2 separate regions of the Homo sapiens genome follow, and region 2 is linked to region 1. The links come from fine-mapping of genetic effects on gene expression. A gene starts in region 1. The other region holds a variant in brackets. All regions are shown on one strand. Distances are from middle to middle. Region 1 holds the start of FAM221B (family with sequence similarity 221 member B). Region 2 has its middle 14 kb from the start of NPR2.

The links.
Region 2: its variant is fine-mapped to the expression of FAM221B in whole blood (TOPMed, PIP above 0.99).

The regions. Positions count from the first base shown.
Region 1 is chr9:35,823,713-35,834,019 of GRCh38, forward strand. FAM221B (family with sequence similarity 221 member B) reads right to left here and starts at 5,020. Exons shown (of 7, transcript NM_001012446.4): 1 at 4,751-5,020; 2 at 1,852-2,449; 3 at 1,518-1,661. The coding sequence starts at 2,449. TMEM8B (transmembrane protein 8B) reads left to right here and starts at 5,516. Exons shown (of 13, transcript NM_001042590.4): 1 at 5,516-6,243. The coding sequence starts at 5,736. RefSeq lists enhancers at 2,385-2,744, 6,108-6,608 and a silencer at 5,373-5,822.
Region 2 is chr9:35,772,168-35,782,474 of GRCh38, forward strand. It overlaps a transcript of RGP1 not described here. Among named protein-coding and RNA genes, the nearest start is that of NPR2, 14 kb to the right of the region's middle. The variant G/A (reference allele first, on the strand shown) is at 4,255.

The sequences.
Region 1 (10,307 bases):
GGAATACACTGGCACAATCACGGCTCACTGCAGCCTTGACCTCCTGGGCTCAAGTAATCTGCCCACCTCAGCCTACTAAGTAGCTGGGGCCACAGGTGTGCACCACTATGTCTGGATTATTTTATTTTATTTTTGTAGAGATAGGGTCTCACTGTCTTGTCCTCACTGTCTAACTCCTGGGCAATTAAGTGATCCTCCTGCCTCAGCCTCCCAAAGTTTTGGGATTACAGATGTGAGCCACCTTGCCAGCCAGAATTTGCAAGAAAATAAGAGTAACCGAATATGTTAACATAAGCAAACAAAGTTGGTGGTGGGGCGGGAGGGCAAGGGTGGGGAGGTGGAGGGTCCCTGCATGGGAAAGGGGAAAGTAAATTTCATGGAGGAGGGATAAGCATTTAGAATTACCTGCTTGTCTTTATGTTTTAGGCCTGTCATCGTAGCTCTATTCCCATCATAAAGGGAAAGGAAGTATGAAGGACCAAAATAAATGTCATAACATCTATTGAATTCAGTCTAGAAAGACCAGAATCCTTATAGCAGGTCAGGGTGGCCCTCTTACTGAAGGTAATCCCTATAGACATGAATTTCCATAACACAGGTAGGCATGCTCATGCATAGGATGGCATGTTTTTGCAAGTTCATCTGTACGCAGCATGCCACTAACAGGACTGTCAAGAGTACTAATCACAGGCTGAGGCTTGGAAACAGCAGGGCCAGAGGACACAGGTCTCCCCTTTGGTAACAGAACTCAAAGCTTTTGGGTACCCAGCATGGGCCTGGCATGCAGGGGTGACAGCCTTTTAATGGAGTTCCACCAAAGGGACTAAGGTCTTTGTCATGTCAGAACAGCAAGTCTCCTGGGGACTGTCCAGGGTCCTGGGCCATCTCTGCTTTAGGGTCTGTAGGCTCTCTGGGCCCTATATCTGGGGTGGGCCATGACCCTTCTGTTTTTTTTTGTTTTTTGTTTTTTGGTTTTTTTTTTTTTTTGAGACGGAGTCTCGCTCTGTTGCCCAGGCTGGAGTGCAGTGGCGCAATCTCGGCTCACTGCAAGCTCCACCTCCCGGGTTCACGCCATTCTCCTGCCTCAGCCTCCCGAGTAGCTGGGACTACAGGCACCTGCCACCACGCCCGGCTAATTTTTTGTATTTTCAGTAGAGACGGGGTTTCATCGTGTTACCCAGGACAGTCTCGATCTCCTGACCTCGTGATCCGCCCATCTCGGCCTCCCAAAGTGCTGGGATTACAGGCGTGAGCCACCGCGCCCAGCCGACCCTTCTGTGTTTAATAATTTTAGTTCAGCTACCTGTCTCTACCTGGGCTTTATATGAATCTCCCCACTTTTTGTCTGCATCCACCCTTGTATTCCTTGGCCCACTTGCCTGCTCCTTTTCCAGGCAGGTGGTATAGCCATTTCCAAAAGGGGAAGCTATCTGCTGAATGTTCAGGTTCCCAGATCTTTTGGATTAGAGGATGCCCATGGGCCTGTCACAGGCCTCTGAAAGGCCACATGGGCTCACCTGTCTGGATGGCATTCAGGGCTGCATCCTTCTCCCACTGGAAAAGATTGTTCACTTGAGCACCAAACTCCTCTCTATGCATTGCCTTAGCCACTTCCACCAGCTCTGTCTGCCTAGCAGGGAACACTGGGCGGGCTGTGTTACCTAGGATGGGAGAGGATGAGTAACCAGGGGGAAGTGAGAAGGCCCTAAAACTAAGAGAAGGGGCCATGTCCAAGAGTAACCCAGTCTCCTCCTCCTGGGGCAAGTCAAGGACAGTGAATAGTAGTGAGAACAGGACAGGGGAGAGGACAGGTACAATTACAGCTAACTCCTTTCTTCTTCTTCTTCTTGCCTAGTTGGTGTCCAGGTTGGGCTGTGTGAGCAGTGCTGTCACTGGCATCTACTCCCTTTTCAACCTCTCCTGCTTCTTCCTCCTGCTTTTCGGTTGTGTCCACTTGGACCTGGGATGAAGGGCCTGAAAGACAGTGTTCTGGAAGGCTCTCAGATTCAGAGAGATGGGTAGACCTCCTTGTCCATGGGACCTCATTGGAAGAAGACTCAGAGGAGAGGTCTTCCTTCAGAGTATCAGAAGAAGACAGACAGACATAGTCTCGTGATTGGGGAGGAAGAGTAAGGTGTTTCTCTGGCACCACTGAGATGGGACTATCCAATGAAGCCTCATAGGTAGGGGTCTCTGAAGGAGTCTCAGAGATGGAAGGCTCCTGATGGGTTTCAGGGGAATGGGCCTCTAAGGGGATCTGGGAAGGGGATGGCACCAAAGGGGATTCAGAGGTATGGGGCTCTAACGGGGTCTCAGAGGTGGAAGGCTTCAAGAAGCTTTCAGAGATATGGTTCTCCTGTAAGTCCTCAGCAGAGGGGTCCTTTGAAGGGGGGTGCTTCTCTGCATCCATGGTGATATGAGGCTCTTCTATGATCTCATGTGCTTCCATCTAGTGGTAGAACAGGGTACAGGCTTCATTAGGTTGGAAATAGAGGGCCGGCAAGTCAGGGCAGAGCCCAGGGTTCGCAGTGCATTATGGAATTTGGATAAGGATATCAGTGCAGCTGAGATATAAGAGGGAAACAACATGAACTCTGGGTCCTAGAGTGTGATGCCAAAAGGTTCACCCATGTGTCCAGACCTCATATGGCATGCTGCTGTGGCTTGTTAGGGAGCTGGAACTTAAAGATTGAAAGACTGAAGTAGTTCGAATCCCATCAGTAGATGGTAGCAGAGAACCATGTCCCAGGAGGGAGTCTGAACAACACCACTTGGGCAGTCCAAGAGCAGGGTCCTTGGCATATCTTAAAACCCTGGAGGTCAGACCATGGAGTTCTAGAGACTGGCAATACCAAGCCAAAGTTGGGGTTGGCTCCTGAGAGTGCAGGGGAATGCTGTCACATAAGGCAAGACACTGCACGCAGCCTGGTTTTGTCTAGGCACCACACACATCCTCCTCCCTTAATGATGTCATTCATGTTCAAAGCTTTAACTACTTCCAGTTGTGTACCAATGACTCCTAAATTCACATTTCTAGCTCAGACCTTTTTCAACCTCTGTACTTCACACTCATACCCACCTGCCTGCTGGCCTTCTCTTCTCTTCTCTTTTTGTGATGGAGTCTCGCTCTGTTGCCCAGACTGGAGTGCAGTGGCGCAATCTCGGTTCACTGCAACCTCCGCCTCCCGGGTTCAAGTGATTCTCCTGCCTCAGCCTCCCAAGTAGCTGGAATTACAGGCGTGTGCCACCATGCCCGGCTAAGTTTTATATTTTTAGTAGAGACGGGGTTTCACCATGTTGGTCAGGCTGGTCTTGAACTCCTGACCTCAGGTGATCTGCCCTGCTTGGCCTCCCAAAGTGCTGAGATTACAGGAGTGAGCCACCGTGCTTGGCCCCTGCTGGTCATTTCTAACTGAGTGTTTCCACAGACAGCAAAACTGAACTTTGGGAATTATCCTAGTCTTTTCCTTTTCCCTTAGACTCCATCTTCAAATAGGCACCAATAACTCTATTTCCTATCTTCTAAATATTCCCCAAATGCATTCTCTCCTCTCCCTTCCAATTTTATTCAAGTTCTCATCATCTTCAGCCTTTGTGTAATAACTTTGCCCCTCTACTTCCATCCACAGCATTTTAATCCATTCACCCATTCTTTCATGGATTTATGTAACTTATACTTTTACAATGAGCCTAATCTGATGCTTTTACTGACCCGCTGTGCTAAGCTCTAGATTGAGTTGAGTCTAGGAGAGAGACCGATTAACCAACAATGGCAATACAAATAAATTGATGTTGTTCTGGGGTGAGTCTAGGATACGGTGGGGAGGGGGATATACCTAATTTATCCTGCAAGGATGTAGTCCTCCTTCCTGACCCAATCAGGATCTTTCTAAAGTGCAAGCCCAACAACTGGCACTTTGTGGCTTAAAAACATTCCATGACTCAGTCTAAAGGATTAAGTCCAAATTTCTTGGCCCTGGCATTCAAGGCCTGTCATCATTTTCAACACAGCCTGAGGATTCCTGCCTTAACTTTCCGTGCTCCCTACTTTACCCCCATGTTCCAGAGACGCTAGATATATCACTCCTTAAATGCATCAGAGCCTTTTTGAAGGGGATGTTTGGGAAGGGAATTAGGGGCAGAGGTAGGATTACAGGGAGGAAGATGACCAGAGTCAGCTAGAGAGAAAAGGGGCCTAAGAGTGGAGAACCAGAAGATGGGAGGTGAGGAAGGGGAAAGAGAAGGGGAGGAGGAAATTGGGTGGAGGAGGAGAGTAAGGATGAAAAGTACAGAATGTGGGCCAGGCATGGTGGCTCATGCCAGTAATCCCAGAATTTGGGAGGCCAAGGCGGGTGGATCACTTGAGGTCAGGAGTTCGAGACCAGCCTGGCCAACATGGTGAAACCCAGTCTCTACTAAAAATACAAAAATTAGCTGGGCATGGTGGCAGGCGCCTGTAGTCCCAGCTACTGGGGAGGCTGAAGCAAGCAAATCACTTGAACCTGGGAGGCGGAGGTTGCAGTGAGCCCAGATCGCACCACTGCACTCCAGCCTGGGGGACAGAGCGAGACTCTGTCTCAAACAACAACAACAACAACAACAACAACAACAACAACAACAACTACTACTACTACTACTACTACTACTACTACTACTACTACTACTACAACAATGTGAAGGGACTGAGGGGTGGGAGAAAGACAGATGTCTTTGAGGGAAGAGGGCAAGGGCCGTTGGAGAAACCACCTACCCTCTGGGCTTTGGCTTGGTTGTTACAAGTCCTTAGGTCAAGACCTTGACTTAGGATGGCAGGGGGAGGTGTTGATCCTCAGGGAGGAAAGGCTCTTGGTTGTGGATGTGCCTCAGCTGCAGGTGCTGAGTGTTGAAATGCCTTGCCTGAAAGTCTGCTATCTGGGAAGGGGACTTGGATATCTGCAGAACTTCGCAAAGGAGCTCTGGCATGACCTGGGGAAGTGGGTAGGGACAAGGGGTCTAGGGCCAATGAGGGAGGGTCTTGACTGAAGCCTCCGGAACCCGGGCCAGGAGAGTAGGCGCCGGTCACCAGGGCAACCGGAACGCCTAGTAGTCTCCGTGGCAACGGCGGTCTGGTCACCTCCCCGGTGGGTAAGGTCTCCTGAGGGGCTTGCATTGGGCCTCGAGGGGGCGAGCCCAGAGGGTTTACTTCTGAAAAGTGGGGTGTGTGTTGCGGGATCTCTGTGAGCGAGTGTTTGGGTAGGATCTGCGGAGATCTGTGCGTACGTCCGGGGGAGTCTGGGATTGTGAGGATAGGGTTCCTTTGAGACATCTGTGGGGCGGTCGTTGGGGGCTGTGAGGATCTGAGGGGACCTCGGGCTCTGTGCTTGGGGTGAGAAAGGCAGGGTCTCGGGTAGCTGAGGCGGGGGCGGAGTCTGTGTGTCCTCGAAGCCCAGCAGGACTAAGTTGGGGACCAATAGAGTAGGGCGGGGGCGGGCTTTACTGACAGGGACCAATCGAGCCGGCCGGGGGGCGGGGCGTCACGCCGACGTCAAGTCGAGGCCGCCGCCGCGGGGCCTGGTTATCGCCGGTTCAGCGCAGCCCGGAGTCGCCCAGGCCTGAACTCCTACCCAGGTCCCCGGCCCCCGCCCCGGGCCCGCGAGGACACCGGAGGCCACCCCCCGGGGGTGGGGAGCGGAGCCGCGGGCCAGCTCTGCGAGCGCCCCGCGCTGGCCTGTCCGGCCCCGCCCCCGCCCCGGGCCATGGCCCAGCCCTTGTCCCGGCCCCTCGTCCTATCCCAATCCCCGCCTTGGCCCCCAGCCCCGCCCTCGCCCCGCTTCCCACATCGGCCCCAGCCCCTGCCTGGGTCCCCATCCAGGACCCCCTTCCAGTCTCTGCCCCTGGCCTGGCCCCCATCCCGGCCTCGGCCCTCGTTCCACCCCCTGTCACAAATCCCAGCCCAGGCCCTGTCCCAGCCCCATTCCCAGTGTTTGCTTAAGGCCCTGGCTCAACCCCGTCCCTTGCTGCAGTCCCCATCACAGCCCTTCCTTCCATCCCACTCCCTGCCCTTGTTCAAGCCCCAGTGTCCAGCCCAGCCCAACCCATTATCTCAGCCTTTGCCCTCATCTCTGTGTTTACCCAAGTCTCTCCCTCTAGTCCCCCCTATCTCTCATACTCTGCCCCTCTCCCAGCCTAGACTCAAGTCTGGGTTTCAGCTGCCGCCAGCCCTATTGCTGCTGTTGCTGTTCTCTGTCCTTGGCCCAGGGGCTGGTGAGTGCAGAAGCAGGGAAGATTGAGGCAGGAATGGGGTTCCGGCAGGGAGGGGTGGGCTGGAGAGATTCAGGAGAGGTGGGACCTGGGGAACTAGATCATTGGGGAGCAAGTGGGAGAAATAGAGAGTAGAGAGGTCTTACACAACAGGGATTGGCAGGGTCAAAAGAGTGGTAATTAATTGGGTTTGAGGCTCAGCAGGTGGCTTACAGTTTCTAGCACAGAGACTCCAAGATTTTTTCTGGTGTCTGTCCTGACCCCACTTTGACTCTTGCTTTTCCAGGGAAATGTTGTGGGCTTTGCTCCTGCTCACAAAGTTTGATGGGGGAGAGACAGTCCCACACCAGAAGCCCCTAGTGTAGTGTGGGAATATATAGCCCAAACCTTTGAGATATTGGGCATGCATTCAAACGGCATGAAGAAGAGTTTTAAAGATAATATGTAGCAAATAGATGAATATGGATTAGTTGCCATTATAATGAGTTTTCTTCTTGTAATGATTCTTGTTCCAAAGAAGATTGATTTGCCTAGGAATAATTCCTGATACTTTTAGAGCAGGGCTGAAACTCGGAGGCTATTTTACAGATGGGGAAACTGAGGCTCAGGGAGGGAGCAATTTGTCCAAAGTCAGAGAGCTTGTGAATGGCAGTGTGCTGGGGCTAGAAAAAAGGTTTCCTAATTCCTATTTCATACTAGTGTGTTTTTTTTTATCCACTGCAATGTATACTTAATAGAAAAATAGACCCAAGTGGGGAAAGGCTCAAAGCATAACCTCCCTTCTCCCCGGTCTGCCCACAAGGGTGCTTTATCCACAAACTGTTCCTTATTTGCCAGGCGTCAGCCAAGGGCCACCCTCCGGTGGGGAAGTGACTTGGACAGAAGAGAGAGAGGTCCAATTTTTTAATGGTTGGAATGTGGGAGGAGGAGGGGGTGTCCTGGTCTAGGGGATGTGCCATGAAGATGGCTCCATCATGGAGTGACTGTAGTCTTCATGGCCCAAGTCTGTAGCCACCTCTGGTGGGTGTCACTCTAGATAGGATGGAGATGTGCCTGATGGAGTCTTTGGAAATAACAGCCAACAGAACAGCTGGGGGGTGGAGAATGGGTATCAGTGAGCTCTGGGGGCCTGGTTCAGTGTACAAACTTAAGGAGACGAATGCACGTGAAAGGTCACAACCCCTGCAGAGATGTCTGGTCACTTATGTGTATGTGTGTAACTGAGGGATTGTGGGGAGGCTGGCAGCATGTGTACATGCTTGTGTGTTGTTAAGTGTAGACACGTGCATGTGTGTGGGGTGCATGTGAGCCAGTGTATCTTCTGAGCGCCTGTGTTATGGTATGAAGGGGAGGGGACATGTTGTGGCCCATGTACATTCCTCTTCAGCTCTGCCTCCTCCTCATATGGACAGATCACTGAAGCTGTGAATGGGGCTGGAGACCCTTTCTCAGCAGTTCCAAGGGTGAGGGCAGTGTTGCATGCCTCCCATAACGAATATAAGTTATCCATCCATCCCCAGCCAGTGCCTTTGAAGGAAGGAGCTGTGGAGGCACTCTGTGTTGATTACTGCTGCTGGCAAATTGGACACTGGGCAGAGGCAGTAGCCAGTCAGGTTTTCAGTTTTGGTAAGGGGAAGTTTATGCTGTTGGGCCAAGTTCCTAGCTTCCATCCTCTGCCATCATGGCTTCTTCATGTGCCCATTGAGCAAGCATTGGGCTGGTGAGGGGAGCAGGGTGACCGACAGCCACAGAGCATATACAGCTGAAAGTTGTGGATAAAAACACTGTTGCCCAGAAGCAGGTTCAGGTGCTTTGGGGAGAATTGTAATGAAGTTGGAAAAGAGTACCAATACACCCAAATGGAGGCAGGGCTGCCTTTAGTGCTGTTAATAATGAATGCCTTGGCAATTTTGGACCAAAGTACAGGGTGCTCTGTGACCTAATGGTGGTGATGGGTTTTGTCTGAGGAGAGGCTGGCAGTGTCATAGGACCATCATGGCACAGGGCTGCACAGTGCTTATTGGTTGCTTCGGTTTCATTTCAGGAATGGAAGTTATCTCTTGGGTCTAGTGGTCCCACTCCTGATCCTTGGATCTTTTCCTTGGGCTTAGTTGAGGACTCACACGTGCCTTGCTATTCAAAAAAAAATGGGCTTTTATTCTACCTAGTGCTATTACTAGCAGGGCCAGCCTCAGCCTATGTGTGTAGGTGTAGGGGTGTGTGTGTGTGTGTGTGTGTGTGTGTGTGTATGTGTATGTGTGTATGGGGTGGGTGATGGTCGGAATTACCCTAGCTTCATCATAGAAATATTGGGGAACCTGGAATAAGTTCATCTGAACTCGGTAAGGGCCTTACTCATGCTTCTTCTGGACACAGCTCTGGTAGGCCCTGTTCAAACCGCAAACCAAAGTTTGGAGTGAATGGGGCTGTGGACCCTTTCTCAAGCATCTGCCCTCAGAACTTCTTCCAAGTTCCTCCTAGCATTCCCAGCTGCTGCTCACTCCTTTATCTCACTGGCCTATTCTGTGACCTCTGTAGCCCCTGGCCACTGTGGGGATGGCTTAGCTAGTTCCCCAGTTCCCCAGGCCATACTGTGATCCTTTGAATTACAAGGATCTTTGTGCTTGTCTGTCCATGTTTCCCAAAGGTCATTAAACTGCTTTTCACCACTAGCCCTCATCTGAGGGTCTGCACCGAGGGACTGACCAACATTTCTCCTAACGGTAGCAATGGTTGATCAGATGACCCATCCCTGGTACCAGCTTTGAGGAGGATCAGCCCTTCCCTAACCCCAGCAGAAGGTGCGCTAGAGTTCTGATTTCTTCTAACAATAGTATCCAGGCTGTTCACCTCTTAGCCTTCTGCCTCCTACTTAGCACAGCTAGGGTTCCTAGGAAACCCGTCTCTTCCATCAGTCGGTCCCATTTCCCTTTATCCCTCTCGGCTGCATCTCTATCACTCTCTGAATGCTGCACTGGTAGCCTCTCTGGGTTCCTAGGCAGTGCTCAGCTTGCAAGGTGACAGGTTTTCCTTCCTGACAGTTGAGACTGATCATGTGGTCTGAACTGGACAGACTAGTCCTTGAGTGTAACCGTGGCCTCCAATGGCCCCCACCTATGTAGGGCAGCTCTCTGGGGTGACTCCTGGGGTTGCTCTGGTTCAGTGTTCGTCCTTCAGCAGCCTCCCCTTCCCTTTCTTTGTTATTTCAAAAACACCTCATTTTTGGAGTTAATCTCTCCCATCTCCAGAGAGGGAGATGATTGGACTAGGTTAGCCCTGAGGGTATTTCCTGCTTGGCTGAAAATGCCCCTCCAGAGTAGTCCTTATTCCAGCCCCGGGTCTGTCCTGAAGCTGCTGAGTTCCCCACCTTCTCACCTGTCCTGGAGGTGTCATCTTGGGCTTCTTTTCTGGCTGGTCCGAAGTCTCCAGAGCAGTCAGATTCCCTAGAGGTTTACTTTGAGAGACCTTGCCTGCCATTTGGGACCCTCTTCCCCTGTCTGCTACTGGTTGCCTCCACTGTGACAGCTATTCTAGTCCCTTGCCTGGCTAGCTGCTGACACAACTTCTGCTCACCTTGGCTCTGCTCCTGACAATCATGATCAGGTATCTTGGCATTTTAATGAGGGATGACCACTTCCTCCCCACCTCCCAACTCGGCCTGCTCTGAATATTCCCAAGGGGCTTGAAATCCACTGGGTCACTAACTCACTGCCTCACTGGGCTTCCCTTTGGGGGAACATTCCCCCGGCCCCCACCTACTAGCTGTGCATTCTGACCTGGGAGGCCTGATGACTCTCCTTTCCTGGGGACTCTCATGGTGGCCTGCCAGCTCCTGTCCTTGCTTTTGCCACCCAAGCAGGCCCCTGGCAGCCGTACCACACTTTCCCCTCCCCTCTCCTGCCCTGAGCCAGTATACAGGCAGCGCTTGTGAGGCTGCTGAGGGTTTTTACTGCTCCTAACCACAGGGGAACAGAAAGGGGAAGAAAATCAACAAGGAAGTTACACAGTTCCATGCTGACTCCCAAGCCCCACAGGTGGAGTTTCAGCCTGCTCAGTGGCTTAAGACG
Region 2 (10,307 bases), 52 kb before region 1:
TGCATCAAGGTGACAGGTGACGGCATGGTTATGGATTAACTCACCAAGGAAATGAGTGTGGAAAGAAGAATGCAGAAATCTGAGGACTAGAGCCTGGAGATGGGGAGCTTCGAGCTCAGAGGAAGAAGAGGATCTTCATCACGGGGAGACATCAGCTGGATATTGAGATGGAAGGATGACTATGAGTATGAGCTATTATAGAAACCATGGTAAGAGTTTTAAGTAGATGACAGTAACATCAAATGTGACTGATGTGTAACTGGAGGAACTTACTGTCATATGCAAACTAACAACTCCACTGTATTCTTCTTCATCCAGATCATTTGTAAAAATTTTATACTAGAGGCCAGGCGCGGTGGCTCACGGCTGTAATCCCAGCACTTTGGGAGGCCGAGGCAGGCGGATCATGAGGTCAGGGGATCGAGACCATCCTGGCTAACACGGTGAAACCCCATCTCCTAAAAATACAAAAAATTAGCCGGGCGTGGTGGCGGGCGCCTGTAGTTCCAGCTACTCAGGAGGCTGAGGCAGGAGAATGGCGTGAACCTGGGAGGCGGAGCTTGCAGTGAGCCGAGATCGGACCACGGCACTCCAGCCTGGGCAACAGAGCGAGACTCTGTCTCAAAAAAAAAAAAAAAAAAAGTTTTATACTAGACTATTCAACAAATATTTTTTGAGCTGCATACTAACTGTGGTGGGGTTGTATAAATGAGCTATAAAGTTGTGTTTTAAAGTAATATGTCTTCATAAACAAATATGCTGGTAATTTATACATAAAACTCTCAAACTTTACTGGTGTATTTGTTAAGTGGAGACTACAGACCTATTTCAGTGACATTTACAAAAAGTCCTTTGGTATTCTTTTATCCTTGTGGTACCTTAAAAAAACCCATATATAGCTTCTTATTGCAAAAGTAATACATAATTATTGAAAAGTACAGCCAGGCATGGTGGCTCACACCTGTTACCCCAGCACTTTGGGAGGCTGAGTCGGGAGGATCACTTGAGCCCAGGAGTTCAAGACCAGCCTGGGCAATATAGTGAGACCTTGTCTCTACGAAAAATAAAAAACAAATAGCCAGGTGTGGTGGTGAATGCCTATAATCCCAGCTACTCAGGAGGCTGAGGCAGGAGGATTGCTTGAGCCCAGGAGGTTGAGCCTGCAGTGAGCTGAGATCGCACTACTCTGTCAGCCTGGATGACAGAGTAAGAACCTGTCTTAAGTAAAAAGAAAGAAAAGAAAAGAAAAGAAATATATATGTATAAATTCTAACACATACTATTCCTAAAGAGACAGTCACTCTTAACATTTTGATTTATACTGTTCCAGGTTTCCTTTTTCTTTTTTTTTTTGAGACGGAGGCTGCTTTGTCACCCAGGCTGGAATGCAGTGGTGCTATCTTGGCTCACTGCAACCTCTGCCTCCTGGATTCAAGCGATTCTCCTGCCACAGCCTCCCAAGTAGCTGTGACTACAGGCGCATGCCACTAGGCCTGGCTAATTTTTGTGTTTTTAGTAGAGATGGGGTTTCATCATGTTGGCCAGGCTGGTCTCGAACTCCTGACCTCAGATAATCCACCCACCTTGGCCTCCCAAAATGCTGGGATTACAGGCGTGAGCCACCGAGCCCAGCCCCAGGTTTCTTTTTAAAAATTATTTATTTATTTAATTTTTAAAATAAATAAAAGAGATGGGGTCTTGCTATGTTGCCCAGGCTGGTCTTGAACTCCTGAGCTCAAGCAATCCTCCTGCCTTGGACTCCCAGTGTTGGGGTTGCAGGTGTGAGCCACCACACCTGGCCCGTATTATTATTTCTGAAGATCTTTTTATATGTGAAAAAACAATCCATTGTTATTTCAGTTTTATAGCCACTTTAAAAAATGTGTATTGGTGCACAAACTTTATTCTCTGATGATAAATTTCATTAAAACAGTCAAAAATTATTATAAGTTGGTTGAATGAAGTGAATGGTTAATCTGGGTTATTCCGGTTTTCGTTGAATGTACATGGGACTCTGAAGGGGTCATACCCCAGTTCTACCACTGCTGGGTCCTCAGGAGACTCAGCCTCAGCACCTTGCTCCCCCATGGCAGCAAACGCCTCCCTCCCTGAGAGACTGACTGTGCTCAGCTCTGGTCAGGGCAGGCTGCACAGGCCTTTTGCTGGATGACCCGGTAGGCAGACTAAGTGTGTGCCTTTAGGGTCCCAGCAAAGCAGTGGTACTAAATAGATTTGGAGGAAAGGATGTTGCTGTGTTTTTAAAAACATGGAAGTACTTGGCCGGGCGCGGTGGCTCACGCCTGTAATCCCAGCACTTTGGGAGGCTGAGGCGGGTGGATCACGAGGTCAGGAGATAGAGACCATCCTGGCTAACACGGTGAAACCCCGTCTCTACTAAAAATACAAAATAGCCGGGCGTGTTGGCGGGCGCCTGTAGTCCCAGCTACTGGGGAGGCTGAGGCAGGAGAGTGGCGTGAACCCGGGAGGCGGAGCTTGCAGTGAGCCGAGATTGTGCCGCTGCATTCCATCCTGGGCGACAGAGCAAGACTCTGTCTCAAAAACAAAACAAAAAAAAACATGGAAATAGTTACTATGGGGAAATTTGAATTTATTGATTTTATTTTTATTTCTTTTTTGGAGGAGGGGAGTACTATAATCTTTTCAGTGTTTTTGGTTTTTATACAGGTCAATTCCCCTCTTTGACTCATCCCAAATTTTGGTGGGGGGGGCTTCAGTCACATCCTTGTCTTTTTCAGCAGCCTCCTCCCCATATTGTCTCGAGGATTGGGAAGCAGGAAATTTATAATACCCTTTTCTCTCTGTTTTCTCCAAATTCATTTTCTCTCCTGTGTTCCTTTGGGAGAAAAGGGAAATCAGTTCTGTCTCTTCACTCCTCTATATTACTCCATCTGGATGGACCCACACTGATAGCAGTGAACCTTGAACTTGGCAGTTTTGGAGCCAGGGTCTTTGCCCTCAGTGCAGTAAATTCATTTTTTTTTGTTTAGCTGCCAGATTTAGGGTCCAAACAGGAAAACAGAACTCACTCTAAGCATTTAAACCAGAGGGCATTTAATCCAGAGAATTAGCTGGCTGTGAATATGGTGGAAGAGCTGAGAAGCCTTTCAAGGGAAGGTGAGGCAATGCAGGGGAAGATTAGCAACCGAACCTTCTATTCTCCCTAGGCTGTGGGAAGGAGGGGAAGTGCAAGGGGCAGGGTAACTTAGAAGCCGGAACTTTGGGGGCCTGTTCTAGGGAAGCTGGGGCCAAAGAGTGCCTGTCCAGATGCTGGCCAAGGCTGGGAGAGAAGGGGAAGAGATAGTCTGGCTTCTCTCGTTCAGTTTTCTGCCAGTGCCTCCCTGACTGAGCTCAGCAGGAAGCCATCTGTGGAGGGAATGGGAAGGAGCGCCACCATTTACTACACACGCTTCCACATAAGCTTGCGTTTGTCTCTTCCTAGTTAGTACACTTCTTAAGGATATTGAACTAAGTTGAACAGTTTCTCTTTTTTGGTCATATACTACTGATCAGCTCTTCTTATTAGACTTTTCAATGAAGAGATGAAAAATTTGAAAACCTTTACACAGTGTAAAAACAAGCAAACTCTTTTAAAAAAATTTTTGCTTTACTCTTCCAGAATATGGTCCCAAACTGCTGATGGTGGGATGTAGTTCAATTTTGGATATGACGGACCCCTAATAATTACCATAATAATGGACATTTATATAATGCTTTACAATATACAAGGTGCTTTTACATTTATTGTTACTGCAAATAGGTCTTAATCTGGGGATTTTGGAGCCTGTTTATTTGACCTCTAACAGGTTAGCTTAAGGCCTAGATTTGAAAGAAAAAAACAGTAATGCTCTTTTCTTGTTTTCCTCTGAATCACAGATGATAGGCAAACTTCTTTGACCTTTTTGTTAGACAGTTTAGCTACCCTCAGTAGTGGGAGGTGTTCTTAGCTGTCACTGGTGGGAGAGGCTGGCATCAAATTACTCCTCTGTTTTTCTCTCTTGGTGACCCAGCAGGTGTTTAGGACAATGACGACTACTCATGTGGAACCTTTGCAGTCATATAGATCATGCCTGTTGTTTTTGGCCTATTCTCCTTCTCCTTCTTCTTCTTTTTTTTTTTTAGATGGAGTCTTGCTGTGTCATCCAGGCTGGGGCGCAGTGGTATGATCTCGGTTCACTGCAACCTTCACCTCCTGGGTTCAATCAATTCTCCTGCCCTCAGCCTCCCGAGTAGCTG[G/A]AATTACGGGCGTCTGCACCATGCCTGGCTAATTTTTGTATTTTCAGTAGAGACAGGGTTTCATTATGTTGGCTAGGCTGGTCTTGAACTCCTAACCTCAGGTGATCTACCTCCCTCGGCCTCCCAAATTGTTGGGATTACAGGCATGAGCAACCGCATCTGGCCCCCTATTCTCATCTAAATAAATATTTTATTTCTTTATTTTCAAAGTGTCATCCTTGGCCCTCAAGGAAGAGTCTAAGTCAGCCCTACAGTTCATCTTGTCTAGTGTTTGATCAAGATTTGCTTTGTGGGCCAGGCGCGGTGGTTCACGCCTGTAATCCCAGCACTTTGGGAGGCCAAGGTGAGCAGATCATGAGGTCAGGAGATCGAGACCATCCTGGCTAACACGGTGAAACCTCGTCTCCACTAAAAATACAAAAAATTAGCCGGACGTGGTGGCGGGCGACTGTAGTCCCAGCTACTCAGGAGGCTGAGGCAGGAGAATCGCTTGAACCTGGGAGGTGGAGCGTCCAGTGAGCCGAGCTGGCACTACTGCACTCCAGCCTGGGTGACAGAGTGAGACTCTGTCTCAAAAAAAAAAAAAAAATTTGCTTTGTGGAAAATCAAAATAATTGAATTTATTCTTGGGCCAGATATACCCCAACCAATCTTAGCTTTGTTTTTATGACATTATACATGAAGTTATCTAAATCAGGTGTTTTTCTTTTTTTTTTTTTTTTTTTTGAGACAGAGTCTTGCTCTGTCACCCAGGCTGGAGTGCGGTGGCATGATCTTGGCTCACTGCAAGCTCCGCCTCCCAGGTTCACACCTTTCTCCTGCCTCAGCCTCCCCAGTAGCTGGGACTACAGGTGCCCACCACCATGCCTGGCTAATTTTTTGTATTTTTAGTAGAGATGGGGTTTCACTATGTTAGCCAGGATGGTCTCGATCTCCTGACCTCGTGATCCACCCTCCTCAGCCTCCCAAAGTGCTGGGATTACAGGCGTGAGCCACTGTGCCAGGCCTAAATCATGTTTTGTGGTTTTTTTTTTTTTTGTACTTGTTTCTTTCATTTATTTATTTTTATATATATAGAGAGAGAGATAGGGTCTTGCTATGTTGACCAGGCTGGTTTCAAACTTTGGCCTCAAATGATCCTTCCATCTTGGCCTCCCAAAGTGCTAGGATTACAGGTGTGAGCCAACGCGCCCAGCCTGGTACTTGTTTCTTGTAAGATGTTCTAGTTCTAACTCTTCTTCTTCAGACCTACTGATCTTGGATTATACTTTTTGTAATACTTTATCTTTTGGTTCCAAATGACTGGTTTTCAGAAAAGCCTTCTTAGCTCTGATGTTACCGTTCTGCCCTTTGATGTTTTTAATCTCCTTGCTACAGCTATGAGGGATTCACCATGTGTGTTTATCTATTAAAAGAAATCCCATCTTTCCCTTTGAGGTCCCATTGCCATCCTTTAAAACATTCAAGATATCAAGCACCCCATATCAATGACATATTTTTATGCTTTCTTGTTTATGATTAAGATTCATTTTTAATTAAAAATTTTGAATAGGTCATACTTGCACACCTGTTACAAAATTAAAGCTATACAAAATGGGCCAGGCGCGGTGGCTCATGCCTGTAATCCCAGCGCTTTGGGAAGCCGAGGTGGGCAGATCACCTGAGGTCGGGAGTTTGAGACCAGCCTGATCAACATGGAGAAACCCCGTCTCTACTAAAAATACAAAAAAATTGGCCGGGCGTGGTGGCGCATGCCTGTAATCCCAGCTACTCGGGAGGCTGAGGCAGGAGAATCACTTGAACCCGGGAGACAGAGGTTGCAGTGAGCCAAGATCATGCCATTGTTCTACAGCCTGGGCAACAAGAGCGAAATTCTGTGTCAAAAAAAGGTATACAAAATGATAGATAATGAAAAAACTGTCTCTTTCATCTTGCCCTTTAGATACCTTGTTCCCCTTCAGGGAGGTATTCGCTGTTAACAGTTTCCAGTCCAAAAGCTACGTTTTAAAGCATAATTAAATTTCTGGCCCCTTCTCTAAAGTCCCTCAATTATTAATCATATTAACTCTGTAGAAGGATGTATCACAACATTATACTGAAAAATAAGCTGAATATACAAAAGTGTTCAAGCAGTCAGAATACTTTGGAATATAATATGACATGTCAAACTGGTGTCTGACATGGATGGCTTCTGGGTGGATGCAAGTCCCTAAATGTCCAGCCTTCCTTTTGTGCATTGGCTTTGCCTGCCTACATACCCACTCCCTCCTCTCGAATGCACAAATAATGCACATTCGCCTTCCTGTTTGCTTTCTCTTAAGCCCAAGGCTTGTTAATCTGGGATCCTTTAGCTCCTAGATCCACGTGCACCTGAAATGATATGTAAAATGTTGTGGAATAATATGTATATGTGCTTTTTATATTTTAATGGGGAAAAGAGAGTATACATGGCTTTCATCTGATGTTCTATCTCCAGTCTATCTCTGTCTTCTTTATTCTGCCTGAACTTTCAAACTCCTGGTTCCTTCTGTCACTCAAAAGATGACTTTGCTTCCCCATTGAGGAATGCAGTTGAGCTCCTTATTTCATATAACCTTCCCTTCATTTCAATATATTATAGAGGATGTTGAGTAAGGTTTTTTTCTATTGCCCTGGAATTGGTGACTAGGGTCCAAAGCTGGGACAAAGAGGACTAAATACTGCACGTTCTAGAGAGAGTTGCTAATAATTGGATCAGAGCTCCTCTCCAGGGCTTACAAAGAGGTAGCAGAAGTGGCCCTGCAACTTCCAGCCAACCCATACCTTACCACCCCACCTCCATTCCCAGGCTATATAAGATAAAAGATGACTGAAGGGAGGCTGTCATGAGCCTAGCAGGGAGTACTTTTCCCTCCTTTCCCCCCTTAAAGTAAGCAAGGGAGTATGAAAGAGATCTACATGAAAGAGAGATTGATTTCTCATTCCTTGGTTAAACTATCTGTTTAGACAGTGGATTTGTTCAGCTCCGCACCTGTCTGAGAAGAGGAAAGGCAATTAGAGAAAGGAGGAAGGGCAGAGTAAGGGGATAGTAGTGGAATAGTCTGCATTCATTCTGTTTGGCTTAGCAAGGGTATGTGAGTTTCTGTGATCAAAGGGACACTGAGGAAGATCGCCGGGCTTGAGCCATCATGCTGGTAACCCATCCAAAAGGCTGCCACTGAACAGAAGTTAGGAGGGTTAAAGAGATGGCTTGGATCAGGATTCTCTGCATTAGGGCACAACTCAGTGGAGAAGCCCAGTAGGACCTTCTAAAGAACTCACATAACTGTCTCATAAGAGAGCCAGCATCTTTTTTTTTAAGATGGGGTCTGTTGCCTAGGCTGGGGTATAGTGTTGTGATCATGGCTTATTGCAGCCTGAATCTCTTGGGCACAAGTGATCCTCCTGCCTCAGCCTTCTGAGTATCTGGGACTGCAGGTTATGTGCCACCACACTCGGCTAATTAAAAAAAAATTTTCTTAGAGACAGGGTCTCTCTACGTTGCCCAGGCTGGTCTCAAACTCCTGGGCTCAAGTGATCCTCCTGCCTCAGCCTTCCAATGCCTTGGGCTTACAGGCATGAGCCACCATGTGCAAGAAAGATAGCATTTTGACATCTGCCAAACAACAGGTTGGCATGGTCTGTCAGCAAACAGTGGTTTGTGATAACTACCTTGTTAAATAAAAAGAGAGTTGTTCTTTTCCTCCCTGCCCTCCTCCTAGTTCTCAACCACCAAGGAGCTAAAACCCTTCTAGAGAACCTTCCAGAGAACTAGAAGAGGAGAAGCAGAATCAATAGAAGGGATCATATTCTTCTCTCCACCGCAGGTTCCTTAAGCCATGGCTTAAGATGAGTTCTGCATTGGACCTGAGACTGGAGTTTTAAGCCATATCGGACTGAGTCTTTAAATAACCAAAAGGGAGCAGAGTGTTATGGACTCTGACCATGATGTTGTGAAGAGGTACAAAGGAGACATTTGTCATGGCACAGATGAAGACTGATGGGTGGCAGGTTATGTTTATACCTGACCAAGCTCAATGCTCAACAGATAAGTTAAATTTATCCGTCACGAAATCTATCCCTGAATCCATTGTTCCACCTTTCCCTGCAGTCTCAGAGGAATTTCTTTTTCTTTTAAAGTGAATCCCTGGCTGGGCACGGTGGCTCACACCTGTGATCCCAGCACTTTGGGAGGATGAGGAGGGTGGATCACTTGAGCTCAGCAGTTTGAGATCAGCCTGGGCAACATGGTGAAACTCCATCTCTACCAAAAATACAAAACAAACAAACAAACAAACAAAAAACAACCAGGCGTGGTGGTGTGCATCTGTGGTCCCAGCTATTTGGGAGGCTGAAGTGGGAGGATTGATTGAGTCTCGGGGGATGGAGGTTGCAGTGAGCCAAGATGGCGCCACTGCACTCCAGCCTGGGTAACAGAGTGAGACTCTGTCTCAAAATATGACCAAATAAATAAAAATAAAGTGAATCCCTTCATCCATACTCATATATCCATTGAGAAAACATTTATTTGAATTCTAAAATATACTGCCAATGTAAGGTACAAAGATTAAGGACGATAAAATTCCTTCTCATGGAATACACAATCTAATGGGGCAGAAAGTACCTACTTTAAAACAAATGTATTAAATTAAATTGAAAAGTGGCCTGAGTAAGCCTCAAAAAAGACTAATTAGAACTCAAGGGAAGAGAAAACATTTCAGGCTGACAGAAAACCCATGGGCATAGAATAACATGACCCACTTAGAGGACTATAGATAGCTCTATATGTTTAGAAGGCATATGTGGCTGCAGAGGAGGCTGGAGAGGAAGATGGAGCCAGGACCACCTGGTGGACTGAGATTCTTGTTCTCCATCCTGCAGGCTAGTGGCTCTGAACAGCAGTAGTACTTTTCCTGGAGGGGCATTTTGGTCCGTGGTGGGTGCGCAGGAGATAGTGGGGGTGGGGGGAGGGGGTGGGGGGGCAGGCAGGAGGGGGTGGAGGGGAAGGGGCATTTTCTTGGTTGCTATAGTGATGAGAGTGGGTGCTACTGGCATTGTAGTAGTTGGAGGCCGCAGATGTTAGACTCTGCAATGTGAGGACAGTTCCACATAATTAAGAATGTATTCCATGAGAGAAGGAATTTCACCTTGTTTTGGTTGTTAATCCTTGTACCTTGACACTGGCAATACCTTTTAGGTGTCAAATAAATGTCCTGAATTCGGCATGATTTAGATATCCTGAGTTCTGCACAGTCTTCAAATATTCCACCAAACAGTTGTGTAGGGTGTTATATATAAATATATATATAAATACATCTGTTCTGTTATTGCTTATCCTAACACTGGTGTTTAATCCAGTATCTTTCTTTATGGAGTGGCTTCAGATCTCTTAAATCAAAATTTATTCATTCCCTGTAATTAGATGGAAGCATCTAATTACAATTAGCTGAGTGCCTCCTTTGGTGTTCTATCACAGTTATATCCAACCATTTACATATTGAAATACCTGTTTTTAAAATAAGTTATTGTCTTTTATTTCTCTCGTTTTTTTTTTTTTTTTTTTTTGAGATAGAGTCTCACTCTGTTGCCCAGGCTGGAGTGCAGTGGTGTGATCTCGGCTCACTGCAACCTCCCCCTCCCGGGTTCCAGGGATTCTTGTGCCTCAGCCTCCAGAGTAGCTGAGATTACAGGCGCCTGCCACTATGCCCGGCTATTATTTCTCTTCTATATTACAGGTAGGAAATTTTATTGATGTTTTGAAATTATGTGTAGAGATAGGTTGTATTATCTATGCATTTTATTTTAAGTTAGTAAAGGTGCCGTTAGAAAATAATTATTAGAAGGAAGATTTAGGTTTGGTAGCATCAAGAGTCATTGTTTAGTCACTGATTTTCAAAGTGTTATTTTGAGCTGCAGAGCTCAAATATTTTTGTTCATGAGCTCCTTAAAATAAAACACTCACACAATTTTAAATTGAAATCTAACTTTATTATTACAAGGTTTTTTGTTTTTGTTTTTGTTTTTTGAGACGGAGT